Linked DNA regions of Homo sapiens. The protein of the gene in region 4 purifies or fractionates together with the protein of the main gene of each other region. This does not show direct contact. Each region holds a gene or a part of one and is shown on either strand. Other genes may lie near its edges. The genes, in order: ASPH, TXNDC11, TUBA3C and OLFM1.

Region 1 (5,413 bases), on a different chromosome or scaffold from region 4:
AACAAATCACAGTAAAGCTTAAACTTATCCCATTTAGATGAGGTGAGAGCTATATGTCATCCTCACTGCAGGAATGAGAAGATTGAGTAAACATGAGAAGATGAAGTAGGAATGCAAAAGGCTTATTGGAAATAAATAAAAATTTATCAATAAAGAAGACGTGTCTTGCTCCAATAGGTAGTGACTGGCAGAGCAGGGATCCAAATTCTTCACTCGGTGTTGGACTATTTGACTAAGAATGTCTAACAGACAAGACACAGGTTAAAGGCCTTTGACCTTGAATAACACAGGGATTAGGGGCTTCGATCCTCCATGCATGTTAAGTTTTGACTCCCCAAAAACTTAACAACTAATAGCCTACTGTTGACTGGAAGCCTTACCCTATATCATAAATAGTTGATTAACATATTTTGTATGTTATATGTATTCTATACTATAGTCTTACACTAAAGTAAGCTGAAAAAAAGAAAATGGTATTAAGAAAATAATAAGGAAGAGAAAATACTTTTACAGTACTGTACGGTATTTTATCGATACCATAAGTTTACATCATCTGTTTACAAGATGAATTGAATGTCTGAAATGGCCTGCAACTACAGGTACAGACCTTAATCTACAGTACATATCAATCAATTCAACTTTTTCTTGTAGGGTCATGACTTTTCTCTGCTTCTTGGCAGCGTGTCCATCATCATTAGTTGCTCTTTGTATAGGTCCCATGGTGTTATTCGAGGTTTGCAGCATTGCATTAAACACAAGGAAAAATACACAAGAACCATAAGAGACCACTTTTCACCGTGATATGCAATTTACCAGAGAGAGGAACTGCTCACATGGAGACGACAGTATCACATGGTATTTTAAGCAGATACTGAAAACACTTGAGCTTGCCGAATAGCAACAGGAAGCAGCTATGAAATTATTACAGTAGTATAATCTGTACTACAGTTAATTTAATGGAGTTATGATTTAACACTGCATCTTCATGTTTGTTTACATTTCTCTTGACTATGAATGGTGCTATGTATGGTCTGTAAGTGCTTCCATGCATATGTTGATAAATTTTATTTCTTTATAATAGATTTGTATATATATAGTAAATGATACAATAGATTAGTACCTATATATATTTCATGCATTCATGACATACCTAATTTTTCTTAATTTTAAAAAATATTTCCAGGCTATAAGGTTCATCTGCAAATTTTTTTCAGATTGCCACAAATCTCAAAAAAATTTCCAATATATTGACAAAAATTCTTACATAAGCGGACCCATAACATTCAAATTCACGTTGTTCAAAGGCCAACTGTACTTATTTTTTCCCCTGTGACAGGAAAAATAATAGTTAGCTCCCAAAAGATGTCCATACCCTCATCCCATAACCTGTGAATATGTTGTCTTTCATGCAAGAGGGAATTAAGGCTGTAAGTGGCACTGAGATTTCTTATCAGCTCACATTAAAATAGGGAGATTATCCAAGATTACCTGGATGGGCCCAAGGTAATCACAGCATCCTTAAATGTGGGAGGAGGCAGATGAGTAAGTGTCAGAGTGATACAGTATGAGAAAGACTTGACTGGCCACTGCTGGCTCTGAAGATGGAAGGGGGCCACAAGCCGGGGAATGTGGGCAGCCTCTAGAAGCTGGAGACTCCAGAGGGAATACAGCCCTGGTGACACTTGTATTTTAGCTCAGTGTGATCTATTGTAGACTTCTGACCTCTAGAACTATAAGATAATAAATGTGTCTGTGTTTTAAGCTATTAAGTTTTGTGGTAATTTGTTACACCAGCCACAGGAAACTAATACATCCCCTAAAGAAGGAAAATAGCTTATATTATATTTCTAACTTAGAAATGCATTTCTAGGACTATATTAGTTGCCAAAACACTATTTTTATTGGACTTCAATGTCTTTTCCATATCCAGATCATCCTTTATATGATGATAAAGAATAGGATTTAAATGAAGAAGGCGTCTTTGAGAGGGGACATATTCTATGATTAACTGTCAAGAGCACAGATTCTGGGACATGTCATTTAAGTATCCTGAACTATGCAAATTTCTTTACACTCTATAAAGCCCCTGCTTATTAGGGAAGATGTGCTCAGAATGTACACAATGTCATCTGCTCTAACGGGGGAGTAAAACAATGGGATTTTTAAAAGTCAGAGACATTTTAATTCCCTATTCAAGATTCCTAAAAGAGACTGCTACATCTAAAGCTGAGTTTAATTTTATTTAATTAATGTTAATTGTGTCCTAAGATAATCACATACTGAGAATAAAATAAGAGTTACAAAAAACGCAACTAAAAGGTATTCACCCCAATCAAATGGAGCTCAATGTTTTAGAAAACAACTTAGCTTTTTCTAAGTAACCTTTTTGGCTCTTAATTGAATAAAATGTTAATTGCTATTTTTAGTTATTAATGGAGTTCCCCAAATGAACAATAAATGTCAGTTTGGGTGAATATTACATAAACCTACGAGTCACCGTAAAGTGTTTTTGAGCCTGGGCTTTCCAAGTCTTCTGGTATGCAGGGCCTGGGGCTGCTTGGCAGGAGTCCCCAATTCTGAGCTCTGTGCTGTCCAGGCAGCAGTTAAGTGAAACTGGTGGCTTGGGGAACAACCATAGGTGGCCTGGAGTTCTCACAAGCACCAGGTGGCTGAGCATGTGCTACCTGGAGAACAGATGTGCCTTACCTGAATGACAGGTGATGAATGGGTAACCAAATGGGTTGTGTCCCTGAGATTTTCAAGGAATTAGAGAACACCTCTAGCTCTTTAGACACATTTATCTTTCTGGTCTGTAAACCCAGATTCTCTGTGCAGTAGACTCTGGGCATTCATGCACTGTCACTGGTCATTTTAACTCTTCACGTCTGATCATGAGGGTCCAAGGAATGCAACGGCAGTTCCTTGATGCTCACGACAGGCCAGGAACCACTCTGCATGATGAGAGTGCCTCATTTGATGTCTACAACATGTCATAAGAAGGCTCAATTAGTGTTGTATTTTATAGAAAGGCAATTGAGCCACAGAGGGGTCACATAGCGAACAGCAGAGCAGGAATTTCAATTCAGCCAGACTGGACCCAGTGTTCATGCTCTTAACCAGACCAGAGACCACCTCTCCACTACTGTTATTACATCATGTGCTATTGTTAGACCATAAAAATATAATATTACTATCATATATTGGATAACTGTGCCAAGTCTTTCATCTAGTGCTCACTGATCCTAGTAACAACCCCATACTTGAGGCACTATTTGCCATTTTTCAGATGAGGGATTTGAAGCTCAGAGATTCAGGGACATGCACACATCACACAGCTAACAAGCGGTGCATCCAGGACTCTAACCTAGGATTGTTGGTTTCCAAAGCCTATGCTTTAAAGCATAATTTCTCATTTTGTTGCATTGTAAGTTAGAAGGCAGCTGTGCAGGAGCAAACCAGTTAACTCAGCCTGAAGAGGAATGCCCAGCATCTGCAACTCACTGTGGCTTTGTTGTCGTTTGATTATTTCTCACCAGCGTTAAACTAACCCTCAAGAAGTAATAAACCTTGCTTCTTTGGGAAAATAGCTCTAGAAAGAGATCTAACAGCCAATGCAAATCTGGAAGAATCATTTAAATTTATCACTTCTTACACATGAATATACTTTGTGAGGGCTATTCATGGAACTGATATCCTGGGTTGTATCTTTTATAAATTTCAAGGCTCTGCTTCTGGGGCAACAACAGGTTCCATCTTGCATGACAATTCTGATCAGTTGCTAGCAGCCACCTAGAACACTGCGTTGAGAAGGACTTAGAGGTTCAGCCTCAGCTTATTCAGAAAGGCTGTTGGGGTCAGTTAGCACCTTTCCCATGGGCTCTGGAAGAAAAAAATGACTGCACATGTGTGGCATATTTTAATCACTGTTGGTGGCACTTATTAAGATAAGAGCAAAATAGACGTTCCATAATATTCACATAACAATTTAAAAAGTTATTTTTGGGGAACAAAATCATTATTTATATTTGCTGATTCTGGTTTTTTCCTTCAACTCTAAAAAGCCAGTCCTTTAAAAAAACATAGTTCAGTCCTAATGAAACTACTTGGATACTGTATCAGTTCGCTAGGGCTGCCACAAGCAAATACCACAGACTGAGTGGCTTAAACAACAGAAGTGTATTTTCTCACAGTTCTGGAGGCTGAAAGTCCAAAATTAAGGTGTGGCCAGGCTTGGTTTCTCCTGAGGCCTCTTTTCTTGGCTCCTAGGTGGCCACCTTCTTCTTGTGTCCTCACACGTCATTTTCTCATCCCTAGTGATATGGTTTGGCTGCATCCCCACCCAAATCTCATCTTGAATTATAGTTCCCATAATCCCCATGTGTCATGGGAGGGACCAGGTGGAGATAACTGAATCATGGGGGTGGTTTTCCCCATCCTGTTCTCATGATAGTGAGTTAGTTCTCACGAGATCTGATGGTTTTATAAGGGGCTTCCCCCTTCACTTGGTACTTATTCTCTCTCCTGCTGTCCTGTGAAGAGGTGCCTTCCACCATGATTGTAAGTTTCCTGAGGCCTCCCCAGTCATGTGGAATTATGTGTCAATTAAACCTCTTTTTGGTATAAATTACCTAGTGTTTCTTCATAGCAGTGTGAGAACAGACTAACACACCCAGTGTTTCTTCCGCTTCTTATCAGGGAATCAGTTATATTGGGTCAGGGCCTCATCCTTATGACCTCATTTAATCTTAACTATCTCCTTAAAGGCCCTATCACCAAATACAGTCACACTGGGGGTTAGGGCTTCAACATATGAATTTTGCGGGGTACACAGTTCAGTCCATAGAAGAGACCTACCGTAATTTTACTTCCCAAAACTTCCAGCATCAGCCTTAGGCATTCGACTACCCAGCAGCATGATTTGCTAACTAGACAACGGCTAAATCTTTACTGAGCCAGATATTCATCACCTTTTTCTCTGAATCTGAGTTCTCAATGTGGCTAAGCAAACTGGTCACTCACCTCCCTCCCTATGACGTCCGCCCCTGTCCCTTCCACTCCAGAATTCTTCTCCTCTATTTCTGAACCACAGCACCTGACATGGATGCCATCCTGCTTCAGCATAAGCTACGATAGTACTTGCCATCACACTTATTATTTTCTTTCTTTCTTTCTTTTTTTTTTTTTTTTTGACAGTCTCGCTCTGTTGCCCAGGCTGGAGTGCAGTGGCATGATCTCGGCTCACTGCAATCTCTGCCTCCTGGGTTCAAGTGATTCTCCTACCTCAGCCTCCCGAGTAGCTGGAATTACAGGCACGTGCCACTATGCCCAGCTAATTTTTTGTCTTTTTGGCAGAGATGGGGTTTCACCGTGTTGGTCAAGCTTGTCTTGAACTCCTGACCTCAAATGATCTGCC
Region 2 (5,413 bases), on a different chromosome or scaffold from region 4:
TTCAACTGCAAACTGAATTGCCAAACAAGGAACATTTACTCTTATCTCTGAAAAAAAAATTAATTCCCACAGTAGTTCTTTTAAAAACAAAACAGAGAGACAACCCTGGAAATTGACCACATGCTAAGGGATTCCAGGATTTAACTATACAATTCAACGCAGGCGGGCAGACTTTCCTTCTACTAGTCACTGTGAGGTAAGGGACAGGTTGAACAGTCAGCCCTTGGCCTACTAAAAAGAAACAGGCAGACAAAGGATCACTGAATGAACCTTAAACCTATTTGAAGCTTTATTACAACAATAACAAATTATGTGAAGGTCTGAAGTCAGTGACCTGTTTAAATAATCTTTCTTCCTTTCCCCTCCAGTTGTGCCTGGGGACACATAGAATTGGATTCAGTGCCGCTAAGTGATACCACCACTATTCAGTTATCCTCCTAAGCTAATCAGAATTCTCACGTGCCTCTCTTCAGTCTCACACAATACAGACACTGCCCAAATATAATTGGATGGTAGGTGGCAAGGGTTGGGGGGTTATGGTGAAATTCAACAACTGCATAATCGTTCTTTTCTCTAAACAGAAATTGACATTAAGCTTACTGTTAACAGCAACAAGAGCCCAGTGAAGAATTTTATAAAGGCTGTGATTATAATACCATAATACATGGTTACAGAAATTCACACACACACACACACACACACACACACGTGATGGGATAAACACAATTCTTCCATGTGCACTGCAGAATGATGTTAAAGGAATATTAGCATGAAAAAAAGTGAAAAACAGCGTTCTCTACATGTACAGCTGGGACACAGTTAATAATTCTACCAAATCAAGACTTACTACAAATTAGTTCCGTTTAAAAATTACCACCACCACCAACCCCATCAACCACCAATAATTTTTAATTTAAAGGAAGAAATCAAAAAAGCATCTAACTTATTTTGTTCCAGAAAAAGGAGCTACCAATCTGGAAACCTCAACCACTCAGGCCAAGAGGCTTTGATGAGTTTTCCTGTTGTGATGTTACAAGGGTTCTAGTGACTTGTAAAAGCTAACAATGCAAAGACAGGGGTGTGGAGGCGGGCATTTCAAGGTGCGTACCACCTCAAATTCCTCATCTGTAAAATAAGAAGGTTGGACACATTTCTAAAGTTCCTTTGAGGTCCCTTCAATCTTTCTGCAAAAGCTAAGCAAGCAAATAGTATATATATGACAATACTGTATACCTGCATATCCCAAAATGACACTTGTACTTGATTCCATGGAACTCTTCTGATTTTAATGTCACATCACGTTATGTCCACCTCTGAGCAGTCTGAAAGGACTACACCCCCCCACTAGGCTTCCATGCCTTTTTTCAAAGCCAAAAAGAAATGCAAGGACCTCAGCAGGGCAAGCTCACCATCCCGTTACAGAGCACAGAGTTAAGTACACCACCTTACACTTACCTTTAAAACAAAAACAGTAACTCTGAGAAAGTATTCCTGTATCCGAAAAAACCTGTACTTGAACCTTCCATGTAAAGGCAGAACCTCCAAGTTACTGGCCAAAAAGTGGGGAAGAAATCTGAAAATGGTCTTAGTGGTCCCTAAGCAAAAACTGGCTTCTTACTACAAATATTAAAATACAAACATCTAATATCCAGAGGAAAATGTGGGGGTAGAGATGGGGTAGAAAAGTGTGTTTTTGCCCAAATACTACCTAATAGTTCCTGGGAGTCAATACTATGTGCCAGACAACAGTTTATGTTACAGACACGGAAATGGGATGGAATGTGACAGAGAACCCACAAATCACTGTTTGTGCATGTTTGCTATAAATCCCCATTGATTATGGCCCAAGAACTTTAGAAGGAAAAAGGAAAGCTCTCTACTGATCAAATCTCCTTTACCCATTTTACTTTCAACAAACTTCAAGCCAATCACCCTGAACAAAGTCCAAAGTCCTATCTCCTATCTCCAAAACTCTTTGAGTCAGATTTTTAGACATTACTTATCATTCACAGCAGGGTCTGGGCTGTACTCTAGTACAGCCTAGGTCGAGACCAGCCTGGCAACATGGTAAAACCCCGTCTCTACTAAGAATACAAAAATTAGCCGGGCGTGGTGGCAGGCACCTGTAATCCCAGCTACTCGGGAGGCTGAGGCAGGAGAACGGCTTGAACCCTGAGGCGGAGGCTGCAGTGAGCCGAGATTGCACCACTGCACTCCAGCCTGGGCAACAAAAGCTAAACTCTGTCTCAAAATAAAATAAAATAAAATAAGATAAAATAAAACTCTTTCCGTTTTTCAGCCCTCTTTGTGACTTTAGAATTGTGGACATGGGCGGTAAAACCCTGTCTCTACTAAAAATACAAAAAAAATTAGCTGGGCAGGGAGGTGGGTGCCTGTAGTCCCAACTACTTGGGAGGCTGAGGCAGGAGAATGGCGTGAATCCGGGAGGCCGAGCTTGCAGTGAGCGGAGATCGCGCCACTGCACTCCAGCCTGGGCAACAGAGTGAGACTCCGTCTCAAAAAAAAAAAAGAATTGTGGACATGGGACTGTGTACTTGTAGTAATTTTCTTCCCAATAGAATAGATGGTAAGATACACTCTGGACTCTGCTATGCCTCCAGATGAAACGATAAGAAATTTTGTGTATTTTTACAAAACACTCTTACGATATCTGAAATGCATTGGAGTAATTCGTACTTTTAAAAACAATGCTGTAAAATGTGTAATGACATGAAAAGATGCTCAAAAAAGTGAGAAAAGCAGTTTAGGAAATAGTATTACTGCCTGATCCCATGTTTAGCTTTAAAAAGGGGGGTGGATTATCCAGATCTTTCTTTTTTAATTTTTGCTTATCTGTATTATCTGAATTTTCTATAGTGAATATCTAATACTTTAATATAGAAAAAATGCAAAATTCATTTATAAACTGGCAAACTAAACTGGAATGAGAGACGCTATTTAAAAAGTTCTTACCTCCGATGATACAGATATATTACAGGAAAATAAAAGAAGTGTTTCTGTTTTCTGCATTTCCCCTGGTTCCACCAACAGTTAATTGCCACAAACAACACCTGCAGAGCCAAAAAAGGTTTTCAAATGACTATGAATAACAACTGAAAAGTTACCAAGATTTAAAAGATGAAATTTAAAAATAGAATGATTCCTCTCTCACTGAAACAGAAACTATGAAAAAAACTGTTTTGAGTTTTCAAAGGTCATAATTTATCACTAAAACAAAAAAGAAAGACATACTCTTATCTATGATGTCCAGGCAGGACTTGGACCGTGTTTACCAATCTTACCATGCAATACAGTTCAAAAGATTTCTGTGTGTTTCCAAAAATAAACCCACTTTTTTCCCTACTGAGTACATGGAATAGTAAGCTCTCAATTTGGAAGGAGCTGAAATTTTTTTTTTAAAAAAAGCAGCAGTCCCTGGATTGCACTACAACCCCCACCACTACGTGATGGTAAACAAACTGCTTCACCCCTTATGCCTGCAGTCCTGCTTCAGAAAAACAGGGCTGACAGCATCGCCTTGCAAAGTGGTTGAGAATTGGCATGGGGCCTGGCACACCAGAATATCATTATTATTATACTAATGCCATCACTCAGAAGGACATACTGCTTAGGCTGACAGTAAGGTAGCTAATTCACACTTATTAATAAAACACAATAGATATCCCTCTTGTGCCCAACATGGGCAACGTGAACTTTGTTCTCTAAATTTGGAAGGCTCCACAGTTTCTAAGAAAAACCAAATGACAGTTCCAAATGAACTTCTGGAACTCAGCTGCCTACACACGTTACTTCACATCAGTGGTTCTGAGCAGGAGAGTCTTAGAAATCTGTGGGATGCTTTTGGCTTGCTACAATGACTGGGGGAAGCTACAGTGCATACGTAGGGCAGGGGTGTTGGTAGATGTCCTGCTACACTCAAACCTGCTTTGCACACGGAAGAGTCGTCCATAGCATTCCAGAGGAGTTCAAAACGCCTGCCAAACACTGATGTTGGGGAAAACCTGTTATTATCAAAGCCCAGTACCTAGCTCCATTTTACATGTGAATCTAAAGCATGCTTTTTGTGTTCACTGAATTTTTCAGGAATGCAACTTCTATGTAAACTGAGAGCAGAAAGGGCTTTGCATAGTTCAGGATTTTACCAAGACTGTTCACCATTTAGGATAATCAATTACTAAGAGCAATGTCCATGTGGCAGGTAAGTCACCAACATATCACCTTTATCAGTCTACGTTTGTAACTATCCCATTCAGTGATTCTACATAAAGGTATATGGACCTGTTCTGACTGTGCACTTACATACTAAAATATATATCATTTAGTTACAAATTACTTTCTTCCCCCCTCACCTCTATGTTACAATCCGTGCATTAGATTATTTTGAAATTACATGTATAGGAAAACTTTATCATCTATGAATTCCTTTTTAGGAAGAAAAAGGGACATCATAAAATACTTATTTTCTAAAGCACAACTGGGGTCCACTGGGCTGAAAACCACTGCCATAACAGGTGACTTATTTGCCTATATATCTTTCTTACCTAGCCCAAAGGTGGCATTCCTTATCTGCTGAATATAGTTCTGGTCCATATATTAAAAAGGTCGGCCTTGTTACAATGCAGTCATATCATACATACATTTTCTTACCTAAAATACCTAACTAGCAAGTATCAAATGGATATGCAAGAACTAGGATTTTCAGTCCCTCTACCTTTTTCAATGCTGAAACCAAACAGTATGGCACCCCAGGATAAGCATTGGCTTGTGTTATGAGATTCAGAATCTGCTCCCACACTTGCCTTGGAGTACAATCGCCACAATTGGAAATCCTTTCTGTTGCTTTATAGAAAGCTCTGTAACTTAGAAACGACTCCTGGAGTTCACCTTGGCAAAGTCTGCCCGTTGGGCAAGGTGTCTCTGTGGGGACATCCTGCCCTACATATAGGACTGACAGTCATTTGATTCTTAAGCTGAATGTGAGCATTACCTGATCTGAAAGCCGACTTGCTGCTTGCTCAATTTCTGCCCTGGCAGCGATGGACTGTCCACACCAAGGGGCATAGAAGAAGAGCAGTACCACCTCTGAATCCCGTCGAACGTACTCTGCATAATCCAGCTGCCCCTGGAAGAGGTCAAGGACTGGAGACCTCAAGGAGAAAAAGCTGACAGGTGGCTTTGCTGGTATTATCACATCTTTTGCTCGACTAAAAAAGAGCAAACACAGAAAAGATTGCTTAGTTTATCTTCTTCTAAAAATAGCTCTGTGGAAGTAGAATGAAGCTTAAAAGGAAAATCCTCTTTTGAATAAGAAAATGGAGTCCCAAAATCACTGCCCTAGAAAGGCAACATCTGGCTGAGCAAATGCAAGACATGAATAATACGTTGGAAACAA
Region 3 (2,777 bases), on a different chromosome or scaffold from region 4:
CTGAGGGGCAGAGTGGCCGTGTGTGTGCACGGAGGGCAAATGCTGTCTTCCAGGTTACTGTGGAAGGCTGGGTGTGTTGTAACCTTCTATGGGTCACGAATGCTGTGCAGAACACAGTAACACTCTTTCCCTTCTAAAATGTCCTGACCTTACACATTTGACCCACAGCTTTAGGGATTTCATGGACAAGCCCCATCCACAGACCTCAGATTTAAACACTCCATGTCTAGACTCTTCTTTGTAGCTCGCATCACCCATCAATAGAAAAGCCCCCAAAGTTGCAAATTCAGTTGAAAACCCTGACTGTGCTTTCCTAGAATTTAGGAAATCTATTTCTCCGTGTCAAGTTACTTCTGTGGCAGCTCCTTAAGTATGTACCATCCCGCTGCACCCAACTCCATGCTAGCAGGGCAGGCTGGCACCCCACCACTGTCCATGCAGGCTCTGGGGGTCCCACCTGCTCCTGCAGGCAAAGCTAGGCAGTACGATACACAGAGGTCTTGGTTTTATACAGAACCTTTAATTGCAAAGAACTTGAAAGCAGCCACGCTGGGGGTGGCAGTGGAGTGGAGAACCCACCACACCCTCCCCTCAGTATTCTTCACCTTCTTCAGCCTCGGCTTCCACGGAATCCACGCCCACCTCTTCATAATCCTTCTCCAGAGCTGCCAGGTCCTCGCGGGCCTCAGAGAACTCCCCCTCCTCCATGCCTTCTCCCACGTACCAGTGCACAAAGGCCCGCTTGGCATACATGAGATCGAACTTATGGTCCAGGCGAGCCCAGGCCTCCGCGATGGCCGTGGTGTTGCTCAGCATGCACACAGCCCGCTGCACCTTGGCCAGGTCTCCCCCAGGGACCACCGTGGGGGGCTGGTAGTTAATGCCCACCTGCCGGAGAAGAGGAAGAAACAGTCCATGAAGCTTATATCAAACCTGGAAATGGTGGCTGCTTTTCCTCAAAAAGAAGACACCCTGTAGGTGAACAGGAGAATTCTCAGTTCACCCCACAAATGTCACTAAGCCCTTCTCTGTGCCAGGCAGGGTGACAGTTCCAGACAACATATGTTGCCCAGGCTGGCCTCAAACTCCTGGGCCCAATCGATCCACCCACCCCAGCCTCCCAAAGTGCTAGGATTACAGTCATGAGGCAGCATGCCCAGCATTTTTTTTTTTTTTTAAGAATAAGGTATTTTCTAAAGGATTTTTGTGCCCCTTTCTTGGGTGGTAGAATTCATGTGGAAAAGGTAGGTTGAACTTAGTAATTTTATGGGCATTTTGGGGAATCTTGTAGGTGGTGTATATATTTTATTTTAACTTGGGCATTACTATAAACTGCTTCACAACATCATTCGTTCCACTGTCTCATGTAGGGTTTGATTTAAAAAAAGAATGAGTTGTTTGTGATGAAAACAGCAACAGGTGCAGTGGCTCACACCCATTATCCCAGCTCTTTGGGAGGCCAAGGTGGATTTCTTGAACTGAGTTTGAGACCAGCCTGGGCAGTATGGCAAGACCCTGTCTCTACCAAAAATACAAAAAAATTAGCTGGGCATGGTGTCATGCACCTGTGGTCCCAGCTACTCAGGAGGCTGAGGTGGGAGGATTGCTTGAGCCTGGAGGGCAGAGGTTCCAATGAGCTGAGATCCTACCACTCCTTGGGTGACAGAGCAAGACCCTGTCTCAAAAAAATTAAAAGGCCGGGCACGGTGACCCACACCTGTAATCCCAGCACTTTGGCAGGCCGAGGTGGACAGATCACGAGGTCAGGAGATCGAGACCATCCTAGCTAACATGGTGAAACCCGGTCTCTACTAAAAATACAAAAACAAAATTAGCCGGGTGTGGTGGCGGGCGCCTGTAGTCCCAGCTACTCGGGAGGCTGAGGCGGGAGAATGGCATGAACCCAGGAGGCGGAGCTTGCAGTGAGCCAAGATCACGCCACTGCACTCCAGCCTGGGCGACACAGCAAGACTCCGTCTCAAAAACAAAACAAAACAAAACAAAACAAAAAGCAGCAACGTCTTTATTTCTTTTCCGGGAAGCCTAGTAATTTTGGCCTGGGTTTGCCTCAGACACAAAATCTGTCCCCACCTTCCACTGACACAAAAGAAACCTTGCTGTCCTCTTTCAGCTTTATCAATAGTTGGTTACTAAATCTTGTGGCATTTCTCTGTTGGGCCTGTGCGTTCTTGTGCTGTGCTTTCCCTGCTGCCTCTGGCTCAGACCCCCACCGTCTCTGTTGGGGGAGACCACTGCAGTCAGTTCTGACTGGGATTTCCTACTGTGGGTGTCTCTTCTTCTCCTTCAGGGGTTAGCACAGCTGCTGGACTAGCCACCTAATTTTGTAAGATCTTGTCTGAACACAGCCACCACACCCCTTCATTTGCAGATTGATTTTGCTATCCGACAGCAGAGTGGGGTAGGTGTGACAGAGGTCGTGTAACCTGTAAGGCCTAGAATTTGTATGATCTTGTCTTTTTTTCTTTTTTTGAGACAGAGTCTTGTGCTGTCACCCAGGCTGGAGTGCAGTGGAGTGATATCTTCTCACTGCAACCTCCACCTCCTGGGTCCCAGTGATTCTCCTGCCTCAGCCTCCTCAGTAGCTGGGATTACAGGTGCCCGCCACCATACCCGGCTAATTTTTGTATTTTTAGTAGACACGGGATTTTGCCCTGTTGGCCAGGCTGGTGTCAAACTCCTGACCTCAGGTGATCCGCCTGCCTTGGCCTCCCAAAGTGCTGGATTATAGGCATGGGCCACCATGCCCATCCAATTTT
Region 4 (5,413 bases):
TGGTGGTCCGTCTGTGCCCCTGCAGAAGGCAAGCTCTCACGCCGCCATCCTCCCAGGACACCACGGTGTCCACACGAGCCCTTGCTGCTGAGCTCTCCCAGGGTCAAGGCATCCACAGCGGCCCAGGAGACGCCCGCCCAAGAGTGGCCCTGTGCGGACTGGGTGGACGGGTCACCCACCGACTGGGAGAATGGTGCCTGAAAGCAGGTGTGCATGGCTGGCTGGCCATCCTGCCCCAGGTCTTGGCTACACAGAGCCCCAAGGCTGGGCCCCAAGCTCCATCAAGGGCCACCATTCATCTCCTATTTTCCAGGTGCTGGGGACACAGGCCCTGTCCTCCCAAAGCTTCTGACCTCATGAGGGGCCATGGCTCCACGCAAAAATCCTCGTGCTGGAAGAATCTTGGGGTTCCCCAGGCATAGGAAGGGGAGACCAGAGAGAACATTCTGGGAACAGAAGGCCAGTGCAGCCTGGAGGGAACAGGGACCTTAGACAGCAGAGACCAGAGACTCTTCTGCAGGTGCCTCTCCCAACTGAGAGCCCCACAGGGCGGGTGGCCCCTGGTGCCGTCTTTCCATGGAGCCCTTTTGGCGATCAGCGGCCAGTGCATGTCCCTCCCTGACCTAACTGCTCTCCATTCACAGCTGGACGGGCTGCTGTGTGCCATGAGCTGAAACCTGGTGTATTAGAGCCACTGGTGCTGCCCCCACAACGTATGCTGAGAGCCCCCTGTGCAGGTGTGCCCTTTCTGATCATGACCCCAAGGAACAGAAGGTTAAGAATGTCCTGGCTGGGCGTGGTGGCTCACGCCTGTAATCCCAGCACTTTGGGAGGCCGATGTAGGTGGATCATGAGGTCAGGAGATGGAGATCATCCTGGCCAATGTGGTGAAACCCTGTCTCTACTAAAAAACACACAGAAAAAAAATAGCCGGAAGTGATGGCATGCGCCTGTAATCCCAGCTACTCGGGAGGCTGAGGCCTGGGAATTGCTTCAATTCGGGAGGCGGAGGTTGCAGTGAGCTGAGATTGCACCACTGCACTCCAGTCTGACGACAGAGCAAGACTCCGTCTCAAAAAAAAAGAATATCCTAAAGGTCACAGAGCTGGGAGGGGCAGCAGAGAGACGCAGACTCCAGTGTGGAGCAGCTCCGAACCTCTGTGCCCAGCTCTGAACCACGCCACCCACAGGGACCCCACACAGGAGCTCACTGGTGACATCTGATGTCCCCAAGCTCCGCAACACACCCACCCTCAGCACAGGCAGGAAAGTTCAGATTCCCAGCCCCGAGATCTAGGAAAAGCAGGGGGTCAGGGCTGGACTCAGGCCTCCTGGGGGTCGTGGAGGTCTCGCACACTGATCATCCTTCTCCAGTTCAATGGGCCATGCGCTACAGTCCCTGAGAGCCTGCGGCCAGACGGCGAGCGAGGCCACCCTGCCCCGAGCACAGCCTCACTCTAATTCGACGACACAGGCTGGAAGGCCCCAAGTTCCTGCCCAAATCCCCTCCCCAACCCATGAGGGTTTCTTTGCCGGAAAAGATAAAGCAACGGGTGGGTTCTTCCTTCTCACGCAAACACAAAATGCATTTGTAAATACCATGCTTTCAGGGGACCAGGCTTCTCCGAAACCGAGGCCCAACACAGCTTCCCATATAAGAAAAACTGGCTGTCTGAACCTCTGCACCGCATTTCAGCCACATGTGGTGCAGTTTACTGAGAACGTGGGATTTTCCTAACTGTCCCGATTACTTTCATCAGCTTCCCAGTGAAGAGGGCCTCTCGGTTCAGGGTAGAGCTGGACGATGGGCACAGATCTGGCACTGCCGTCCCAAATGCCTCTGATGCAGCCCCCGGGAAGTGGGAAGCGGATGCTATTTAAGGGGTCTTGGCGTAGGGACTTGGGCCCGCGCTGGCACTTCCCTTTGGTTTGGCAAGCATCTGTCACATGTCGTCCTGACAGAATTCCTAACATCAAGGAGCCTGGGCCGCTGGAAAAGACACTCTAAAGCGGCCCGTAGCTGAATGGGTGGTGGGAAAGAGGTGGGGGGGATGCTGGCAGTTTCTGCCGGAGGCTCCACTTGGGGAGTGAAGGCTGAAGGGGAACAGACAACGGTTCTCGGTCCTGGGAAGGTCCCTCCTCACACTGAGAAGTGACTGGAAGGGGCGTTGATGTTTATTGCACCACTGGCGGCGGGCGGATCACTGCCTGCACCCACACGGTTTTATGCATTTTGGATATTTCCACCTTCTGGAAAAAAAGATTCCGTGGGATCCTTATAAAATATCTAGATGGCCTTGACGCTGTTTAGATGATGGGAAAGGACTTTGAAACGCTAAGCTAAGCTTGCTGCTGTTTGTAAATGACAGTGTTTTCCTAATTATATCACCCCTTCAAACATGAACTTCCTGGGGTGGTGGGAGTAGCGCTGGCCCCCTTTTTGGTGTCTGGTGTCTGATGTGAGCTGACCTGAGACTTTTATAGGAAGCGGGTCAGAAAGGAGGAGGCAGATGTTGGGCTCTGGAAGGCAGGCCATGGTCAGAGCAGGCCAGAAGCCTCCGAGCTGGGGAAGGGGTCCCAGAACTCATGTGGTCTCCCAGTGGGTGGGAACACAGCCTGGCAGGGCATTCACGCATCAGGTTGAGAGCTGGCCAACCTCCACACAGCCCTTCCCTCCTCCAACACTGAGGCAATGGGACGGGCGGGAAGGAAAGGAGGGGCTGTGGGGCCCGGTGCCCTGGGAAGCGCAGGGGTGGCTTCCTGCTGAGAAGAACTTGGGGGCTCTCAGTGCTCAGCACAGGCCGGACATACAGTCAGTGCTTAATAAATGAATCCAGAAAGACCTGCTGCAAAGGCGTCCCAAGCTAACCTTGTTCTGACAGCTTAGCAAGGCCCTGAAGCTGGCTCAGGACCGTCCCTCCTGTGGTCACACGAACACAGAGATTCTGCAGGTCCCCCTGAGCCGGGCTCTCTACTAGGCAGCCCCATTGAACCTCTCCCCTCTGCCCTTGGCCACACCTGCCTTACAATGCCCTCCGTGGCAGCCTGCACTGAAGCCGACATTGATTTCTTTTTCTTTTTTTTTTGGAGCGAGTTATTGGGCTCCTGTGTGTGTGATCAAAACTGAATGGGAGATTGGAAAAGATCAAAACAAACAAACCACGGCTGGCCTAGATCAATGACAGGACCTGGGGACATGTCACTTAGCACACTGGGAGTTGGAGGCTGTGCTGAGCGTATGGCTTGGAATGGCCGTAGCCGAGGGTGCTCTGAGCAGGCTCCGGGTGGCTCCTCTGCCAGCCCCAGCACCCATCTCCCCCACCCCCTTGCCAGGGATCCCTTCTCCTGCGGCTTCTTCTCCCCACACTCTACCCACCATCAGAGCCTCTTTTCCTGGAGGGCGATCCAGTCATCAAGCAGAAAATAGATGCCTAATGATCAAAAGCATCCATCAGCACCGCGACAGCTTTGCAAACCCACACCCTCGCTGCGCTGTGCAAAGCAAACAGCCGGGGCTTCCAGGAGCCCCAGATCCTTGGTACCTAGAAAAACGATAACTTGACTAGTGCTCCCTACGACAAAGGAAGGTGATACAAAAACAGAAGTCAAGAGGCACACACGTGTGGCGTTAGATACAGACAGAGCAGTCCAGCCCTGGGGGGTGTAAGGTACAGACAAAGCAGTCCAGTCCTGGGGGGTGTTAGATACAGACAGAGCAGTCCAGCCCTGGGGTTGCCCTCTGCAGCAGGGAGGTGACTGCTTCCTGCTCACAGATCTCAATGTGGTCAGCGTGGGTTTGTGGGGTGGTTTTCCTGCTCTGCATAGTGGGGTGGGCCAGATTGCGGGGAGGTGTGGGAAGGGCACTTGTAGGGGGAGGGTGGTATAAGGGACTCGGCTTGGAGTGTCAGTGCATGCTGCAGACAGGCACTCCATGATCCTGAGACCCTTCTGCCTCTGGGCGTGAGAACAGTCTTGTCATCCACACTGAGATGCCAATGACCCCGACGCAGGCAGGTCCCAGGGAGGACAAAGCAGGAAGGGCACGCAGATGGCTGCATGAAGGCCCCGTCCTTCCCCCGCTATTAAGGGAGTTAATGCATGAAAAGAAAGTGCTTTGGACAGCACCTGCACACAGGACACACTCGCTGTTTTTTTTGTTTTTTTTTTTTTGAGACAGAGCCTCGCTCTATCACCCAGGCTGGAGTGCAGTAGCATGATCTCGGCTCACTGCAACCTCTGCCTCCCAGGTTCAAGCGATTCTTATGCCTCAGCCTCCGGAGTCGCTGGGATTACAGGTGCACGCCACCACGCCTGGCTAATTTTTGCATTTTTAGAGAGATGGGGTTTCACCTTGTTGGCCAGGATGGTCTCAAACTCCTGACTTCAGGTGATCCGCCCGCCTCAGCCTCCCAAAGTGCTGGGATTACAGGTGTGAGCCACTGTGCCCGGGCCTGCTTTCTAAGTGCCTGCCAGCATCACCTTGTTTTCTTCTGTATTATGATCATTACAAAAACATCTGTGGCAGGAGCAAGTTCCTAACTCTGAACATAAGTGGGGTTTTCCAGGTGGGATGTGGAATAAAAGAGTGGTCAGAGTCTTCACAGCTAATTAAATTGTTAGAAAACTTCCAAGCCTCAGCTGTCACAATTTAGAAAACAGGACAGAAAAACCTCCCTGACAAACACCCAACACCAATTGTATCCCGGCTCTGCAGTCTGGCCAGCCCTTCCAGATGGGGGCGGGGGCCACTCCCATGCGAGGCTGGGGGATCAAGACACATGCAACAGGCTCTAGCAAGTCTGCCAGTCCCCCTCCCCTCCCCAGCCATCTTCCTGGAAGGAAGGAGTGTGCCAGAGGCCGTACCGCCCATGTTTTAAATATAAGAGATTTCGTGGAAATGGTGGCAATGGTGAAGGAGGGAGGCAAAGAGATCAGAAATCAGAGGGGAGAGAGCTGGGTCCATCCCTTCCTTCAAACCCGCTCCAGATAAAGCTTAGAGGATCTCACATTTCAAAGGGCCTTTCTCAGTCGGCCCAGGGCAGAGCTGGGTTGTTTGTTTTTAAGTGTTTATTTTCTAAGTGTCCTGCAAACCCCTGAAGGAAGGGGTTGCTGGGTGAGAAATGCCCACTCTGGCAGCCAGAGGTCAGTTTGCAAATCAAGGGACAGCGAAGCCCTGACAGCTTCCCTCCCCCATCGAGAGCCTTCAGAGGGTGCTCACTTTGGAGGGAGTCTACAAGCCCATGCTGCCTGTATACAGGGGTCTGGGGCCCAGGGGCCGAGCGAGGCCGGGCCTCACCATCAGTCGGGCAGCCACCCTCACCTCCCCATTTTTCAAAGGGGCTCGAACATAAAACCCAGCCCCCCAGATAAAGGCAAATATGATGCCTGTTTCTCTCTCCTCTTCTGAGGTTTC

What was found.
Region 1: the proteins of OLFM1 (region 4) and ASPH purify together in Homo sapiens (affinity purification with mass spectrometry; 3 studies listed by BioGRID and IntAct, with this or other methods). This does not show direct contact.
Region 2: the proteins of OLFM1 (region 4) and TXNDC11 purify together in Homo sapiens (affinity purification with mass spectrometry, with the first as the bait; one large-scale study listed by BioGRID). This does not show direct contact.
Region 3: the proteins of OLFM1 (region 4) and TUBA3C purify together in Homo sapiens (affinity purification with mass spectrometry, with the first as the bait; 3 studies listed by BioGRID). This does not show direct contact.

What each region holds. Positions count from the first base shown.
Region 1 is NC_000008.11:61,518,150-61,523,562, forward strand, and holds part of ASPH (aspartyl/asparaginyl beta-hydroxylase), read right to left. Parts: intron 1-5,413.
Region 2 is NC_000016.10:11,731,009-11,736,421, forward strand, and holds part of TXNDC11 (thioredoxin domain-containing protein 11), read right to left. Parts: intron 5,226-5,413; coding exon 5,009-5,225; intron 3,072-5,008; coding exon 2,974-3,071; intron 1-2,973. UniProt on the Homo sapiens protein: May act as a redox regulator involved in DUOX proteins folding. The interaction with DUOX1 and DUOX2 suggest that it belongs to a multiprotein complex constituting the thyroid H(2)O(2) generating system.
Region 3 is NC_000013.11:19,173,272-19,176,048, forward strand, and holds the end of TUBA3C (tubulin alpha-3C chain), read right to left. Parts: intron 889-2,777; coding exon 592-888; 3' UTR 501-591; downstream 1-500. UniProt on the Homo sapiens protein: Tubulin is the major constituent of microtubules, a cylinder consisting of laterally associated linear protofilaments composed of alpha- and beta-tubulin heterodimers.
Region 4 is NC_000009.12:135,107,390-135,112,802, reverse strand, and holds part of OLFM1 (noelin isoform 4 precursor), read right to left. Parts: intron 1-5,413. UniProt on the Homo sapiens protein: Contributes to the regulation of axonal growth in the embryonic and adult central nervous system by inhibiting interactions between RTN4R and LINGO1. Inhibits RTN4R-mediated axon growth cone collapse.